Homo sapiens: one gene and its partners. The protein of the gene in region 3 purifies or fractionates together with the protein of the main gene of each other region. This does not show direct contact. Each region holds a gene or a part of one and is shown on either strand. Other genes may lie near its edges. The genes, in order: RAP1A, PPFIBP1, CPLX2, DHX16 and SNAP25.

The links.
Region 1: the proteins of CPLX2 (region 3) and RAP1A purify together in Homo sapiens (affinity purification with mass spectrometry; 2 studies listed by BioGRID and IntAct, with this or other methods). This does not show direct contact.
Region 2: the proteins of CPLX2 (region 3) and PPFIBP1 purify together in Homo sapiens (affinity purification with mass spectrometry; one large-scale study listed by BioGRID and IntAct). This does not show direct contact.
Region 4: the proteins of CPLX2 (region 3) and DHX16 purify together in Homo sapiens (affinity purification with mass spectrometry; one large-scale study listed by BioGRID and IntAct). This does not show direct contact.
Region 5: the proteins of CPLX2 (region 3) and SNAP25 purify together in Homo sapiens (co-immunoprecipitation; one study listed by IntAct). This does not show direct contact.

The regions. Positions count from the first base shown.
Region 1 is NC_000001.11:111,699,789-111,703,288, reverse strand, and holds part of RAP1A (ras-related protein Rap-1A precursor), read right to left. Parts: intron 1-3,500. UniProt on the Homo sapiens protein: Counteracts the mitogenic function of Ras, at least partly because it can interact with Ras GAPs and RAF in a competitive manner. Together with ITGB1BP1, regulates KRIT1 localization to microtubules and membranes.
Region 2 is NC_000012.12:27,681,184-27,684,713, reverse strand, and holds part of PPFIBP1 (liprin-beta-1), read right to left. Parts: intron 3,169-3,530; coding exon 3,018-3,168; intron 2,328-3,017; coding exon 2,216-2,327; intron 2,100-2,215; coding exon 2,011-2,099; intron 1-2,010. UniProt on the Homo sapiens protein: May regulate the disassembly of focal adhesions. Did not bind receptor-like tyrosine phosphatases type 2A.
Region 3 is NC_000005.10:175,870,306-175,874,377, reverse strand, and holds the start of CPLX2 (complexin-2), read right to left. Parts: upstream 2,801-4,072; 5' UTR 2,673-2,800; exon of another isoform or gene 2,179-2,672; intron 1,612-2,178; exon of another isoform or gene 1,358-1,611; intron 1-1,357. UniProt on the Homo sapiens protein: Negatively regulates the formation of synaptic vesicle clustering at active zone to the presynaptic membrane in postmitotic neurons.
Region 4 is NC_000006.12:30,666,490-30,670,019, reverse strand, and holds part of DHX16 (pre-mRNA-splicing factor ATP-dependent RNA helicase DHX16), read left to right. Parts: intron 1-2,692; exon of another isoform or gene 2,693-2,835; intron 2,836-3,206; exon of another isoform or gene 3,207-3,530. UniProt on the Homo sapiens protein: Required for pre-mRNA splicing as a component of the spliceosome. Contributes to pre-mRNA splicing after spliceosome formation and prior to the first transesterification reaction.
Region 5 is NC_000020.11:10,302,323-10,305,852, forward strand, and holds part of SNAP25 (synaptosomal-associated protein 25), read left to right. Parts: intron 1-3,530.

The DNA of each region.
Region 1 (3,500 bases), on a different chromosome or scaffold from region 3:
GTATACTGCAACAATTTAAAACAGCATAATTACAAGTGAGTAACATTTTTTATTACTTGCTATCCTGACAGAAAACAAGACATAACACAAGTTTCTAGCAACTGAGGTGACTAGAAACAATGACAGTAAACTAGAATTAAAAAGGAATTCTTAACCACTTTAATTTGCTTTTGTGTGATTTAGAGCTGTATATAATTTTTTAGAAACAGATCTTTTGATCCTAAATAATTTTATTTGCAAATTTATGACACAACTACTGCCCAAGTGCTAACAATCTGAGGTATAAGCCCAATACTAAACTATGACTTCATCATCCAGAATCAATATCTCTACTGGCAGATTTTATCATCTTTCTTTTTCTATTCCCATGGCATAGCAATATTTTTATCATCTTGACAGTCAATAAACTCTTTATAAGAGCTTGTTAATGGTCAGGGGCAATGACTCACACCTGTAATACCAACACTTTGGAAGGCCAAGGCAGGTGTATCACCCCAGGTCAGGAGTTCAAGACTAGCCTGGCCAACACAGTGAAACCCTGCCTCTACTAAAAATACAACATTAGCCGGGCGTAGTGGTGCACACCTGTAGTCCCAGCTACTTGGTGGAAGAAGAATCACTTGAACCCGGGAGGTGGAGGTTGCAGTGAGCCAACATCGCACCACTGCACTCAAGCCTGGGCAACAAGAGTGAAACTCTGTCTCGGAAAAAAAAAAAAAAGAGCTTGTTCATGTATTTTCATTTTCCCCCTCATTCCAAACCTTTAGAAAAGATGTGAGAATAGTGCAATGACTATCTATCCCCTTTAGTTAAATTTACTAATGGTTAACATTTAGTTACTGAGCTTTAGTCATGCCAAATTAAAATTACTTAATTTTAAACTTCCTTTTATTTGGTGACAATCATTACTTTATGTTGTAACTATGGAGGTTAATATAAGACAAAATCTTCTTTTAGAAAAGTTTTGGTATTATATATATATATTACTTAAAAAGCACATATGGCAGAATATTAAAAATGTGTATGTCTTGGGTCTTTATATTAAATAACTATACAGTTTGGATCTTTTTACCTCTGGATGCATTAAACGTAAAAGATAAATCCACAAAGTTTCTTAAGCTTGTTGTGCCTTGGCTTCCTTGTTCCCCATGACCACTACCTCTATTTTGTCTACTACATCTAAAATAGTTCTGGTTGTTCTACCCTGGCTGATGTACTCTTTCTTGTATTCCAGGGAGTTAGCTATGCTACCACTCAGCCATTTCCCCAGCTTCAAATTCGTCTAAGGTGTGCCACAGGAACATGGCTGAGCTTCCTATACTGCTGCCAGTGTATTTTCTGGGAAAGATGTAAAAACTGGAAGTTTCCTGGATTTTTCATTGATAAAGTTTGCATATTCCAGAATTGCACCACTATGGTAACCAATTAAATTCTGCCACTGTCCAAATGTTTATATAATAAATGAGTTTACTTACAAATGTTAAGTGCTACAAATACTAGCAACACTATTTCTATGATGTTCTCTAGAGATCATGGTCTCTGCTTCTTATTAAATCAAAAGAATAAACATACAGGCAACCTGAGTTCTGAAAATCCAGTTTAAGAAAAGTCCTTACAGAACTGCTGTGGTTGGTGTTCCCTCCTATTGAGAATGCCAACCTCCTTCTTAAGGACATTCTACAAGTTTCATCCATTCACAACAAATATCCACTGACATAGTTGTAGCCCTATGGATATGTTAGTGATCATGAGAGGCAAAAATTTCTGCCCTGGAGGAGTATACATGGAGACAGACAAAAATCAAGTATGCAAGATGGTAATAAATGTTATAGAGAAAAGTAAAGGTTGGGAGTTTATTTTGAGGGTAGGAATATAAAGTTATATTTTAAAAGACTATGCTCAGGGAAGGCCTCACGGGTAACATTTGAGCAACCATGTGAGGGAGGTGAGGGAATAAGCTCTATGGTTATGTGGAGGAAGACTACCCCAAGCACAGGAAAGAGCAAATGCAAAGGCCCCAAAGGGAAACATGTCTAAAGTGTATGAGAAGCTGTAAGGAGGCTGGATTCATTGAAACATTGTTACCTAGTGGGTGAGTATAGCAGTGGGGGCCAGAGAAGGGACAAAGAGAGAGGATTCTCATTTGGACCTTTCAGGGAAATGTAATAAAGACCTGGGCTTTTACTCTGAGTTTAATGCATAATTTAAGCTGAGGAAAACATGATCTGACTTACATTTAAATGGAATTATGATGGTTACTGTGTGGAGAACAATCTGAAGGGGGTGAAGAAGAGAAGCAGGGAGATCAGTTTTGAGGTTATTGAAATAATCCAGCTGAGAGATGACAACTGTTTAGACCAAGATAGTGTCATTAGATTCTAGTGGTGGTAGCTGAGTTCTGGGTAAGTTTTTAAGGTAAAGCCAGTAGGGTTTTCTGAGAGTTTGGATGTACACATAATATAACAAAAAATACAGTCAAGGACGACTCCATGGTTTCAGGCATAACCAACTAAAAAGGTACTATTTACTGAGATGGGAAAGACTGGAAAGACCCAGGTCAGGGAAAGGTTATCAGGAGTTCAGTTTGGACATGTTATATTTGAGATGCTTATAAGACATACAAAAAGAGATATTGAAGAGGCAGTTAGATATAAGAGCTCGAAGTTCAGAAAAGAAATGAGAGATAGGGATATTGTTTGGATGTTTGTCACCTCCAAACCTTATGCTGAAATGTAATCCCCAGTGTTGGAGGTGAGGCCTGTGGGAGGTATTTGGGTCATGGAGGTGGATCCCTCATGAATAGCTTGGTGCTATCCTCACAATTATGAGTTCTCGTGAGATCTGGTTGTTTAAAAGTGTGTGGCATCTCCCGCTCACTCTTTGCTCTTGCCATGTAAAACACCTACTCCTCTTTGCCTTTCACTATGATTGTAAGCTTCCTGAGGTGTTCACCAGAAGCAGATGCTGGAGCTATGCTTGTATAGCCTGCAGAACCATGAGCCAATTAAACCTCTTTTCTTCATAAATTATCCAGCCTCAGGTATTTCTTTACAATAATGCAAACGGCCTAATACAGACAGGGTTACAAAGTTAGTATTTATCAGCATACAGATTGTATTTAAAACCAAGCAACTACAAGATCTCCAAAGCAGTGTTGTTAGGAAAGAGAAGTGCAAGTATTGAACCCTGAGGTCCTCCAACATTAAGAGGTAGGGGAGATAAAGAGGAATTAGGAAAGGAGACTTAGGAGTAACCAATGAGACAGAGGAAATCAGGCAAGTATTGTTTCTTGGAAGCCAAATGAATAAAGGTTTTACATTAGAAAGCAATGATAAACTGAGTCAAAGGCTGCTGAAAAGTCAAGGGAGTTGAGGATATATTCAAGAGAATTATAAATGATGGACCGTGGACCTGAAGCTATATGCAGAGGGGGTTGAAGATATAAGGGATAATAAAAAGATGTTAGGATAAATGGACTACAGGTTGTAACGAAGTTGAAG
Region 2 (3,530 bases), on a different chromosome or scaffold from region 3:
AGAATCCAGTATTAATATGAGCAAAATGCTTAAAAGGATGTTTGACACATAGCAAATGTGCAACATACTACACATATTAGTATTATTTCACGCAGGTTTATGTGATGTGCTCATCAAGGTAAGGGGCTTGGGTTCAATGACAGAGAAGAAAAATCCATGAACTGAACTCCAAATTTTTTTGACATTGAGAAATGCCTACTTAAGTTGGCTGTTTAAAACTTGCTACTTACTTGAAAAAGATTATACTTAGGGTAGTTAGGTCTATAGCCTACTTCACAAAAAGCTGTTTAAATAAAAGAATTTTAGGCCGGGCACAGTGGCTCACGCCTGTAATCCCAGCACTTTGGGAGGCCGAGGCAGGTGGATCTCCTGAGGTCAGAAGTTCCAGACCAGCCTGGCCAACATGGCGAAACTCCATCTCCACCAAAAACACAAAAATTAGCCAGGAGCAGTGGTGTGCACCTGTAATCCCAGCTACTCGGGTGGCTGAGGCAGGAGAATCACTTGAACCTGGGAGGTGGAGGTTGCCATGAGCCAAGATTGTGCCACTGCGCTCCAGCCTGGGCAGCAGAGTGAGACTCTGTCTCCAAAATAAATAAATAAATAAAAGAATTTTAAGTAGAACAAGGCCAGGCTCGGTGGCTCACGCCTGTAATCCCAGCACTTTGGGAGGCCAAGGTGGGTGGATAACGAGGTCAGGAGATCGAGACCATCCTGGCTAACATGGTGAAACCCCGTCTCTATTAAAAATACAAAAAATTAGCCAGGCATGGTGGCAGGTGCCTGTAGTCCCAGCTACTTGGGAGGCTGAGGCAGGAGAATGGCATGAACCCAGGAGAGGGAGGTTGCAGTGAGCCGAGATCGCACCACTGCACTCCAGCCTGGGCGACAGAGCGAGACTCCGTCTCAAAATAAAATAAAATAAAATAAAAATAAAAATAAAAATAAATAAATAAAGAGAATTTTAAGTAGAACATTAATAGTGGTATGGAACCTAAAACAAAGTTCTCCTGGAATCCATCTTTCTCACTGCTGTAAAGCAGGGAATAGTCCTACACATTGGCTGGAGGGCTAGAAATGTACAATAATGAAGGAACCAGAGTAGAAGTCTAGCCTTCCTCCCTCCTCCTTTAACCCCAGTAACTCCTGCTGTAGCAGAACTAGGCTGAAGTGAGACGGGTGATAGGGTTTCAGGTAACAGTTGTCCAGAGTGGAAAGGAGAAGACAAGTCCTTGAAGATGTCAGGTCAAAAGGGTGGCCTCTTCCAAATGGTCATTGCACATAGAAACCCATAACTTAGAGATAGCTTGGGCTTAAAAATTCTACATTCTATTTAAAAAATATCTTTAGGCTGGGCGTGTTGACTCATGCCTATAATTCCAGCACTTTGGGAGGCCGAGGCAGGCAGGTCGCTTGAGGTCAGGAGTTTGAGACCAGCTGGCCAACATGGCGAAACTCCGTCTCTACTAAAAATACAAAAAAATTAGCTGGGTATGGTGGCGTGAGCCTGTAATCCCAGCTACTCGGGAGGCTGAGGCAGGAGAATGGCTTGAACCTGGGAGGTAGAGGTTACAGTGAGCTGAGATCACGTCATTGCACTCCAGCCTGGGTGACAGAGCGAGACTCCATCTCAAAAGAAATAATACAAAAAAAATCTTTATGAGATATAATTTGCATACCATAAAATGTACCCATTCAAAGTGTACACTTCAGTGTTTACTTTGTTGAATGTATTACATATAAAATCAACCTTCTGGAGAGCTTAGTTTAAATTAGGCTTCACTTAGCTTACATTGGGGTTTCAAATTATCCCAAGCCTGTTCAATCACAATCACCAAATGCTACAACTTCAGCCTCATGGGAAATATGCCTGCCACTCTCCTCAAGTTCAAGCAACAGCTTCAAACTCTGGTGGAATCACTGAAAACACTGTGTTTGGCTTACTCAATTCCTGTGTTTTTCAGAGAAAAAAAGTTTTCCTCCCCCAAACCCCAGGAGTGAGTCACTTACAACAGTCATGTAATGTAGCATTCGACCATCAACCCGTCCTTCATCAAACTGGGTCTTATATTGAGGGAGGCCAATGTCATCCAACCATCCTAAAAGAGAGAGGCCAGTGTTGCTACCATGCCACAAAACATCTGTTCTTGTGATTAAAAAGAAAAAGCAACTATGTATATAATTATTTCATTTTGTTAGAATAAAAACTTCTTACTAGTGACCCAGTTGAAATCCAGCTTCCCATGATTGGTTTCTTCTTCAGATCCCAGGGCTTGGAGTGCTAGCTGGAGTTTCTTTCGATGAAGTGAATGCTTGATTCCAAGTTCCTGAAACAATAAACATTGACTTTATAATTCTATCTGTATAGGCTGGGTGCCACTGGCAAAGGATGCAAATTTCTCCAAAATGAAGCTAGCATTAAAGACCCAATTCAATACTGAATTACAATCCCAACTTGGGCTAGTAAAGTGTTGTTGAACAAAAGGTCCCTGAAAAGCCAAGACCACCACAATTATCTTAGGGGTGTGTTAGGCATTCCCTAGTGACTCATTTTCTTTGTAAGCTAGGAACTGTAGCATGCATAAAAAGAATTTGACTCTTATTTTGTACAAAATATTAAATAATTTGGAAGAAATGTTAAATAATTAGACACAAATTGTAGGGTGCTTTTTTTTTTTCTTTTGCAAAGTGAAGTTAATTGCATATCTTACACTGAGAAAAACAGGCCAATGATAAAGCCAAACAATGATTTCGAGAAATATGAACTGAATTATGCTTATGTAATTCTTTTTCATTAAAATGCCCAATGGCTTAAGTGTTCCATAAGGAATCATCAAGACCAGGTCCTCCCAAGACCACCAGAAAAAAGAAGCATGAAGCAATTGAAAACCCAAACTTTTGTTTACAGAGTTTTTACTGGCTTCACTCATGGCCCTTTCTGGACTATAAAACAACCCTACATTCATACTGTTTTCTTCTCAGTATCCATTGTGTGAACAAAACAGAGAAGCAGTCACCTTCTCTAGATCTTGTTGAGAAGCCTGCAAAAGCGTTTGGCCAGATGCAATCCAGTGCTTGCCAGAATTCAGGTACGAGCCCAAGCCCTGTTCCATCAGCCAATTGCAAACCTGCTCCTTGGTCCACTTGGCAAATGGCATATCCAAGTCACTACAGGAAAATGAGTAATTGCATGAAAAATAATCCAAAGCCAATCCTGTGGCTTATCATTAGTTTTAAACAACTATACATTCAATAGACATGGAAATTCCCTGGTGATACACATTTGACCATGAAAAGCTTAATTTTTAGTATACATTGGAGGAACAACTGGTTGAAAGTTATCTTCTAAGACCACTGTCTTCATTTCAAATGAAACCACAAAAGATTTAACGTGATAGAGCAAGAACAAGTGCTACAGAAAAAGACCAAATTGGACAAACACAAGTCACTGTATCAGTTTTAACCAATGTTGTTTGAAGATTGGATTCCCAAACAGGAAACTCAGTTGGACTGAAAGAAACTTAAGTCTA
Region 3 (4,072 bases):
AGATCATGCAAGGAATTGGTGAGTTAAGATTGGGATGGGGGTGCCGAGGGAGAATTCCAGGGAGAAGTCCAGACGCTGTAGCTTTGCAATGCTGCCTACATCCCCACCCTCCACTCTGTGACTGCTGCTAATGCCTTGGTTCAGGACCTAGAGATTCTGGATTTATCCATAACCTCTAACTGTCTCTCCCTCAGCTCTCATCCAGCCTCCACGTGGCCATCCAATTAATCTTCCTAAAGGGCAGATTTTCTCATGCATACACACCCTGCAATGGCTCCCCATGGCCTTGTTAAACTGATACGAGTCCTTGTGCTGACCTTCAAGGCCTGCACAGTCTAGCACCCGTCTTCCTTGCTGCTCGTGTGCCACCTCTTGCACAGGGCTCTGCTTAGCACGTATTATTTCCCAACAGATAATCTTTCTGAGAATGCCTGGGCATTTGTGCATGCTATTCCCACAGCCTTGGAACCTCTTACCCTCATCTCTGCCAGTTCAAATCCTGGCTCCATCACTTACTAAGTAACCTTGAGCAAATGACTCAATGTTTTCTCATCTATGAAATGGAGACAACAACACCTATTCCCAAGGCTTGTAGTGAGCATTGAATGAGGTGATGCAAATAAAGTGCTCAGCCCAGTGTTGGCACAAAGTAGGTACATATTATCTAACATCATCGCAGTCATCATTATCATCATCAGCAGCATTGATTTCTGAAGATCTCTCTCAAACAGCACTCCCTCCATGCAATTTCACGGATCTCCTTGGCAAGATGTGAGGGCATCTTCCCCTTTGGAGACCTGTGGCACTTTCTGGGGGCAGTATTGCCTGCCTCCAGTACATGCTCTCTTTGTCTGTTTGTCTTTCTTTGTCTTGCCCTTCCTGGTTACTCTGAGCTCCTCTCAGGACAGGACCAGTATCTTGTTTCATTTCTCCTGTCCCCAGAATTGGCTACATGTCCTGGTACATGGTAGATCCTGAGGACGTGTGTGCCGGGTTGAATTTAACGTGTCAACGAGTGCATGAGGGTGTGTGCGTTGAAAGTATGACCCCGTGTGTGCAACTCTGGACTTAGACATCGTGTGAGTGCGTGCGTGTGTGCAGGGTGTGTGTGTGTGTATGTTTTGCCATATGCCTGCGGGAGTGCTGAGGTCCAGCAGGTTGCCGGCAGTTGAGGATTTGGGCCAGGCCGCCAGGAGGCGCTCCTTAGCGATTCTGCGGGAAGCCTTGGTCTATCCCTGCGCGGGAAGGGGGGTGAGGGTGGGGGTGGGTGGGAGTGGGGGTGGGTGGGGGATGCTGCGCTGGGGGAGGGGAGGCCGGGGGCGGCGAGGGATGCCGTCGTAGCACCAGGTTTCCGTACCTTCAGTGCGCCGGGGACCCAGGGCGCGCCTTCAGCTTCCTTCCCCTCTCCGACTCCCTCCGAGCCCGTCCCAGCCCAAGCACCGACTCAGGCTCGACCATCTGAGCCCCTAGAGGTTTTCGGGACTGGGCCCCGCCATCTGACAGGCTGACTCGGGTAACCTGCAGTGGTTGTCCTTATGGCCGTTTTTCTGTTTTTATGATTCAAGTCTGGGCTATATTCACCGCAACTCAATTCAACACTCATTTGCTTCTGGCAGGGGACTACGCCAAAGGCAGTGGCAGAGACAGGGGATGTCACTCCACCCCCTCCCCCCGCCCCGTCCCCACCCCGTGGCCCGGGATGGGAGACGCATGGGGGAGGGGAGGGGCAGCGGAGGATGGGAGGAGGTAGGGAGCCGACTCCGGCTGAAAAGCGGAAGTGGCCGGGGGTTCCCGTTTCCCGGCCAGAAGAGAGGACAGGAACCCCGGCGCCCCTCTCCCGGACCCCCGCGGAGACCCACACCCCCAGCAGCTCTGTCCTGGATCTCCCGGTGGGCCACGGAGAGCGCCCCTTCCCCCAACACACATAGCTCCAACCCCAAGACCCGGCCCGGTTTCAAACTTTGCTGGGGAAGGGGGCAGATTGAGGCCGACGAGAACGAGAGCACAGAAGGGGTCGTTCCCGAAGACTCCAGGCGGCGGGCGTGCGCTGTCCAAGCGGCGGCTCCTCCCGGAAAGGGACAAATAGTCCCCTTGGTCCCCCATCCCCTGTCAATGTCTACGTTCTCCTCCCCTCCACCTGCGGTCTGTCCGCCCCCCTGCCGCCGCCCTCTGACTCACTCCGGGAGTGCGCACTGTACCCCTGGGGGCGACTCCCTCCTCCGGGGCGAAGCGTGCTCCGGCGGGCTTCGGGTTAAGCACAGCCAGAAGTAGCTTAGATCGACGTCCCCCACTCCCGCGAGCTCAAAGTTGTTCTCTGGGTTCAGACTTGAGTCTCCGCCGCAGCCGGGGCGGTCCTGGCTCCGGGACCCCGGCCGTTCGGGCTCTGCCCGGAGTCTCCGGCTAGGGCCCACGCTTCCTCTTAGTTCGCAGCTAGCTGCCTGCTCGCGGCCCCTCGCAAGGAGCTGTCCTTTCAGCACCACGGAGAGCGCACCCGGGAGTGTCCCCTTTACCGCCTCTCAGTCCCCATCCGGTGCCCAGGCAGCCTTGGGGAGCTGTCCCCCCGAAAGCCGTGCTCCCCAGCTTCCCGAGCTGCCCCAAGGCCTCGAGGCGAGAGCCGGGACCCTGTTGCCCACAGCCCAGCTCCGCCCTCCCGGCCCTCGGCCAGCACCGACCTGGCGGTCCCTGCAACCGTCTGAGCCACTGCAGGGCTCCGGCCCGACTCCACGAGGTGGTTCCTTCTGCTATTCCAGCTCCCGCCGCCGCGTGCAATTCCGCCAGGCGAGCTGGAGCCGCGGCTTCTGCCGCGGGCGGCTGCCGAAGGCGCCCTCCAATCACGCCCCTCAGCCGGGCCCTGACGTTCTACCGCTCCCCTTCCAGATGGGAAATTCAAATCTCTCTCTCTCTCTCTCTCTCTCTCTCTCTCTCTCTCTCTCTCTCTCTCTCTGTCTCTCTCTCTCTCTCTCTCTCCTCTCTCTCTTTCTCTCCCTCCCTCCCCCCTCGTCCCCTCCTTCTCTCCCTCTCTCCCTCCCTCCCGTCTCCTTCTCCCTCCATTCCTCCCCCTCTTTTCTCGCTCCCCTCCCCTCTCTCCTCCACCTTACACTGTTCTCCTCCCCCTCGCAGACGCCCCTGCCGCCTCCCTGCAACCAGACATCCTGGCCACAGCTCCAGGCCCACAAGCTTGCTGCTCCTGAGGAGTGGTGGGGGCAAGGGGTGGAGGAAGGGTTCTTTAAAGCAAAGCTCAAAGTTCACCTCCTTGGGAAAGCCCTCCTTGGTTTCTCCAGGCAGAGTGGTTGCACTTCTTGCGGCTCCTGCCACTCCCAGACAAGCCCTTGCCTCAGCGACCCCCGTTCCACCTGTTGGTTTGCCTCTTGCCTGTGAGCAGCTCCAGGACTGGACCTTGGCCAGGTCATCTTTGCAGCCCCCCAGCACAGTGTCCAGCCACAGGAGCACTCAGGAAACACTGATGGAGCGTGTGGGCAAGACCCTCGCAGTGGGTCAGGAACCTCCACTGCGCACCCAGAAAGAGAAGACTGATGCAAAACTGCAGTGGACCTTAGGCAAGCCACTCGCCAATCCCTTTGAGATCTGATATCCTGTGAAGAATAAGGACTCCTCTGGCAAAATTTATTCTAGAAGGCCATTTCTTTTCCTCCTATGCCCAAGAAAGTAAAAGGACTTCCAAGAGGCAGGACAACATCTGCTCCCACCCCCAGCCTTTCCTCTTCCCCTTGCACTCATTTTTGTTTTGTTTTGTTTTGTTTTATTACTCTCACCTAATGAGCCTTTTTATTCTGCCTGCCATCTTTCGGCTCCCAATTACTCCAGCCCGATGTGTAGGAAAATGGCTTCGGAGAGGAGGGGCCTTGCACAAGGCCTGTGAAAGATCTGCAGGAGTTTCACATCCATCAAGGTATGTCAGAGTGGAGATGGCTTCTCCTTCTAAGGGGATGGCTTCCTTCCAAGGAAGGGGCAACAAGAGCTGCAGAAATGTGATTTTGTTCCAGTGAGGGAGAACTTATCCCTTCACACACGATCACAGCAGAGGCCTTAAAGCAGGAGACCCCCCCACCAG
Region 4 (3,530 bases), on a different chromosome or scaffold from region 3:
TGACCATTCAGCTTAGGCACACCATCTCCAAATACCTTCCCACCACCTAATTCCTGCACCCCTTATGTGGCTTTGTGATCTCCCTGTGTCTTCTCACTGGACAGGGACAGAGCCCTTGTAATTCATAAACTGGACTTTTTATGGTGTGAAACTAGGTAGGGTAAGCTGTTTTCCAAAGGCCTGGTCTTGTCAAGTAAAGTCACACTTAGATTCCCCAATACCCCAATAGAATTTTGAGACTCTTGAAGTTCCTTTTTTTTTTTTTTTTTTTTTTTAAACCTTTTTTCTTTTTTTTGAAACGGGGTCTTGCCCTGTCACCGAGGCTGGAGTGCAATGATGCGATCTCGGCTCACTGCAACCTCCGCCTCCTGAGTAGCTGGGATTACAGGCGCACACCACCACGCCTGGCTAATTTTTTGTACCTTTAGTAGAGACGGGGTTTCACCATGTTGGCCAGGGTGGTCTCGAACCCCTGACCTTGTGATCCACCTGCTTTGGCCTCCCAGAGAGCTGGAATTACAGGCGTGAGCCACCATGCCCAGCCTTCTTTTTATTTGTTTTGTTTTATTTTTTATTTTTATTTATTTATTTTTGAGATGGAGTCTCACTCTGTTGCCAGGCTGGAGTGTGGTGGTGCGATCTCAGCTCACTACAACCTGTGCCTCCCTGGTGGAGGAATCAAGCGATTCTCCTGCCTCAGCCTCCTGAGTAGCTGGGACTACAGGCCTGCAGTACCACACTCGGCTAATTTTTTGTATTTTTAGTAGAGGAGATTTCATCATGTTGGCCAGGATGGTCTTGATCTCTTGACCTTGTGATCTGCCCGCCTTGGCCTCCCAAAGTGTTGGGATTATAGGCATGAGCCACTACGCCTGGCCGTTTTTACTTTTTAAAATTCATTTATTTATTTTTTTGAAACAGAGTTTTGCACTTGTTGCTCAGGCTGAAGTGCAGTGGCGTGATCTTGGCTCACTGCAACTTCCACCTCCCGAGTTCAAGCGATTCTCCTGCCTCAGCCTCCAGAGTAGCTGGGATTACAGGCATGAGCCACCTCGCCTGGCTAATTTTGTATTTTTAGTAGAGATGGGGTTTCTCCATGTTGGTCAGGCTGGTCTTGAACTCCTGACCTCAGGTGATCCACCTGCCTCGGCCTCCCAAAGTGCTGGGATTATAGGCGTGAGTCACCACGTGCCCGGCCAACTTTTGGAGTTCTAAGAATGGCCTACTGGTTCCCAGGTCTCTCCTGACCAATTTATCTCATATCTCTTCCTGAAATTGACTGTGGTTAGGCTTCTGGGACATCTCAGTGCAGTTGTGGTGGTAGTGGTGTTACTGTTTTGGCCTGAATTTAATTTTTCGGGTTTTTTTTGAGACAGAATCTCATTCTGTCGCCCAGGCTGGAGTGCAGTGGCATGATCTCGGCTCACTGCAACCTCCGCCTCCCGGGTTCAAGTGATTCTCCTGCCTCAACCTCCCGAGCAGCTGGGACTACAGACATGCACTAGCATGCCTGGCTGATTTTTGTATGTTTAGTAGAGATAGGGTTTCACCATGTTGGCCAGTCTGATCTCAAACTCCTGACCTTTGGCGATCCACCCCCCTCGGTCTCCCAAAATGTTAAGATTACAGGCGTGAGCCACTGTGCCCAGCTGTAATTTTTCTTTTTCGATTACAAAAATATTTAAGCACATAGGGAAGTTGAAAGAATAGAACAAAGAACACTCATAGACACTATTCAGATTGAAAAATGGTTAATACTATGGGTAGTATTTGCATTGTAATTGTAAATGTGGTATGTTTTTTCTTTTCAGACCATTTAAAAGAGTCTTAGACATCATGGCGTTTTATCTCTAAGTACATCAGTGTGTACCTGCTAAGGATAAAGATATTGTCCTCTAAAATCAGAATGCTCTTGTCACAGTCAGGAAGTTGAACAGTAATTCTTATGTATCGACTAAGATCTCTCTACAATAAAAGATACCCTCATTACCCTCAAAATAACTTTAATGACTGCTTTTTCCTAACAAGAATGCAGTCAAGGTTCATGCATTGCATTTGGGTCTTAGATGTTAAGTTTGTTTCTCTCTCTGTCTGTCTCACCTTGCAGTGTCCTACATTCTGGATTTGCCTGATTCTTATCTTGTGGTGTTAAGTACTTCTCTGCCCTGTGCTTTCTTTGAAGCAGGAATTGGGTCTAAAGCTTATTGACACTCAGATTAAACAGTTGTGGCAGGAACACTTCTTGGGCGGTGATGTGCACTTCATATTATGTCATATCACGGGGACATACTATCCAGTTGTGTATCTATATATTAGTATTAATATCCTTTCTACCAATAGCCTTTCATCAAATGCTTTTAGAAGCCACTGGTAATCCTTTCCTGAACATGTTATTTTTATTGGGGATTGCAAAATGGTGATTTTTTTTTTTTTTTTTTGAGACAGAGTCTCGCTCTGTCGCCCAGGCTGGAGTGCAACGGTGCGATCTCGGCTCACTGCAAGCTCTGCCTTCCGGGTTCATGCCATTCTCCTGCCTCAGCCTCCTGAGCAGCTAGAACTACAGGCGCCTGCTGCCACGCCCGGCTAATTTTTTGTATTTTTAGTAGAGATGGGGTCTCACCATGTTAGCCAGGATGGTCTCGATCTCCTGACTTCGTGATCCTCTTGCCTCAGCCTCCCAAAGTGCTGGGATTACAGGCGTGAGCCACCGCGCCCGGCCGAAATGGTGATTTTTTGATTCTGTCATTCCTGTTACGTGTATTGGCTAGAATTTGTCTATAAAGAAGAGCTTTTCCTCAACAACTAGGAACAAGCTACAGTTCCTTCTTAAAAAGGGTAAATGTTTGTTTCCTTTTAAATACGAATTTTTAGAGTAAGGCGTTTGCTGTAACAGTCATTTCACTGGTGACAGATTTTTTTCCCTTGTTTTTTGTTTGTGTGTGTCAAATTGGACTCATGAATTTTTATTTTTCAGTATTTTATAATCTCACATCATTATTCTTTTTAATGCTCAAATGGCTCTGATTTTTTGCCCATATTAAAAAAAAAATCTATCTGGCTCTTCCATGGAAGGAATATTTGACTGTGGTACCCAGATTAGGTCATGATCATAAACTGCATTTTAAGTCTTTACAGAACAAACAAGAAAAGCCAAACAACTAAATAGAACCAGGCCCCTTAAGGGTAGAACAGCAGAGGGGCTTTTTTTTTAAAGATGCAGTTTTGTTCTTGTTGCTCAGGCTGGAGTGCAATGGCGTGAGCTAAGCTCACTGCAACCTCCGTCTCCCGGGTTCAAATGATTCTCCTGCCTCAGCCTCCCGAGTAGCTGGGATTACAGGTGCCCACTACCATGCCCAGCTAATTTTTGTATTTTCAGTAGAGACGGGATTTCACCATGTTGGCCAGGCTGGTCTCTAACTCCTGACCTTAGGTGATCCACCCACCTCAGCCTTTCAAAGTGCTGGGATTACAGGTGTGAGTCACCACGCCCACCCAGCCACCAGAGGGGCTTTGACCTTGCAGTAGAGGAA
Region 5 (3,530 bases), on a different chromosome or scaffold from region 3:
TCACATTCTTCTATCAGTGAGAAAACACAGCATTTGAGAGCTAAGACTTTGAGTTCTAACAGGGTTTTGCCATTCACCAGCTCTGTGACCTGATTGCCTCACCTGAAGGATAGTAAGAGAACTGTTCAAACCTAGGATCAGAACAGGCTGGAAGTATGAACTGGGTTCTAAAAGTCACCTGGCATGGTCTGAAGTTGAAGAGATTCCCGGAGCGTTCAGAAGATGGGCTGAACAGCTCCTTCTAAACTTTTACTGGCTCTTTGGTGGTCATCCTGGCCTTCTCACAAGGACAAACATGTAACATATGTTGGGCACTCCAGCAAATTTAGAATTTTCTAAATAGAAATATAAAAATTGGAATGGGACAGCCATCATAAATAAAGTCCTACAGCATATAAGTAGGGTGATCATAGGGGCATTCTCCAAATACCAGGAAGACATCTACAAGGAGATTCCAGACTTTTTTTTTTTTTTAAAAGAAGCTAATTCTTTTATATAATAAAGGGGCAGTACTTTCTGTGTCAAATATTGCATGGGGTGGAATTTTCATATGCTTCAGAAGTAAGTTAGGTGGAAATCACAGATGCTCATTGAACATAAGTCTGTTTCAGCTCCTCCCAGATCCTTTAAGGATATACAGAGTAACCTCATGCTCTACTTCAAATATCCCCAGGTGAAGGCCCCTCAGTGCATTCTTGTACAGGAGATCCTAGAATGTTTGCGCTCAGGAATGCCATCATTTTAAAATGAATTATTTTTCTCATTTGAGCTTTTCAGAGCATTTAGTCTGGCAACATAATAATTCAATCTACAGGAACATTTCACATTGCTCTGATCCTGTAACTTTCCTTTGCACTGAAGTGTCATTATTTCTGATACCATTTGTAGCTGGAAAGGGAGGGCTTAAGAACCAAGTAAAATTGGTGAGATTATCCATTTTCCAATTGAGAAACCTGAGGTCAAAAATGTGAGTCTGTAGTTCAAAACAATCAAAATCAATGCCCTATCTTACTATGTAAATACTGATTTTAAAAGACAAGTGTCAATTATCCAAACAGATGACAGAGAACCATTGCCAGGTATTCAAAGTTATGATTAATCTGGAAATATGTTTGTTTTAACTTTGCAAATTTCTATTTGAACATGGATAATTCTAATGTCCTGAGAATTCACGATATGAACTGAATACAGAAGACTCAGCTCAATAAAAATTGGGAAGTACAGCACCACAATAGGTACAAAGCTGGTAATCATTGAGTGATACTGGTTGAGAGAAAAACAGTTTGGTTTCCCCACACTGCCTGGCAGCCTCCTCCTCTTCTTCCCAGGCTGTAGAAGGATAGACAGCATTACCAGTCAGGGAAGGACAAAAGAAAAGCCTCCATAGAATCGTTGTCTTCACCTCTGGTTGCTGATGCATTTTTCTCAGTGGTGATGGGAATCATTCATTTTCTGGAATTTAAAGATTTATGCTGGTAGCAGCCCTAGGTTTCATGCTGCATATACAGCAAACATAACCCAAGCAGTAAAGAGATCAACCAAGAGATTAAAGCCAGCCAGTTACAAAATCATAGTAAATGTGCATCTGTTAAAGAAAAGACAGTTATTAAACTCATAGAAATGAATCTTCAGAAATGCAACTTAAAAACTATTAAGCATCCCAGAAGCAAGCCAAGTTCTCATACGGTAACAATAATTGCAAGATAAACTAATGAGCCCTTCGTTTTGCAAAACATTATTCCAAGCACATTATGTGTATAAACTCATTTGATCTCAGCAAATTGAATAGTAAGTGATGAATAGTGTGGACTCTGACTCCAGGTTGCTAGCATTCAGACTCTGGTTTCTCCATTTATTAGTACTAAGACTTCAGACAAATTCCCCAGATCGTTTCTGACTGCTTTTCTCATTTGGAAAAGTGAGCTAATAATAGTACACACTTTATAGTTGATATTGTTAATCTTGATGTTGTCAAAGTTTAATGAGTGGAACAAAGTACAGTTGACCCTTGAACAACATGGAGATTTAGGGTGTCAACCCCCATGCAGCTGAAAATTTTTTGACTCCCCCAAAATTTAACTACTAGTAGCCTACTGTTGACTGGAAGCCTTAATGACATAAAAAGTCCATTAACATCTATGTTTTATGTATTATTTACTGTATTCGTATGATAAAGTAAGCTGGAGAAAAGAAAATGTTATTAAGAAAATCATAAGGAAGATAAAATACATTTATAATACTATGCTGTATTTATTGATACCATCAGTTTATATCATTTGTTTACAAGATGAATCATCAGTCTGAAATCTTCAGTACACATTAAGCAATTCAACTTTTTCTTGAAATGTCGTGACTTTTTTTTGCTTTTTGGGAGCACTGCTAGCATCACTGGTGGCACTTTGTATGGGTGCATGATGTTATTCAAGGTTTACAGTATTGCACTAAACATGATTTTTTTTAAATGTGAAACTGCAAGAGATCACTTTTTACTGCACTATGCAATTTACTGGAGAGATGGTGAGGATGATTAGTATCACAGAGCATTTTAAACGGATGCTCACAACACTTGAGTTCACCACAATAATAGGAGGTGGCTATGAAATTATTAGAGTAGTACAGTATGGACTACAGTTAATTTTATACAATTATGATTTAATACTTCACCTTTACATTTCTCTCAACTGCAAATAGGCCCATGTATGGTCTATATTTGTTTAAGTCTCATCAATTTTAACTTTTCATAGTAGATTTATATGTATTTTATGATAGTAAATAATAGACTAGACTAGTATCTACATATATTTTATCCATTCATGACATGCCTAATTTTTTCTAAATTTTCTCAATATTTCTAAGTAACACATTCATCTGCAAGTTTGTCTTAATTGTTGCAAATCTCCAAAGCATTTTCCAGTGTATTTATTGAAAAAAAATCCTGGCCAGGTACAATGGCACATGCCTGTAATCTCAGCATTTTGGGAGGCTGAGGAGGGAGGACTGCTTGAGCCCAGGAGTTTGAGACCAGCCTGGGCAACATAGTGAGATCTCATCTATACAAAAAATAGAAAAATTAGCCAGGCATGGTGGCATGCACCTGTGGTCTTAGCTATTTAGGAGGCTGAGATGGGAGGCTCAGTTGAGCCCAGGCAGTCAAGGGTGCAATGAGCTATGATCACACCGCTGTTCCCCAGCCTGGGCATCAGAGCAAGACCCTGTCTCAAAAAAAAGGAAGAAAGAAATTCACACAAAAGTGGATCCACACCATTCAAACCCATGATGTCCAAGGGTCCACTGTACATGCTCATGCTCATTAGCAATATTTTTTATCATCCAGGTTGGAGAAGAGAAAGCTGAGCCCCCAAGATGTAATTTGTTCAAAGGGACACTGCTAATAAATTAGCCATGGTTTCAATCCTACAGTATAAGAAGTGTAATTCAACTTGGTCCAACAGATGTGAATGCCTACCACAGAAGTCATTGAGTGTCTTTCTAGGATAGAAAGATAAATCATATATAAGCCTACGCTCTCT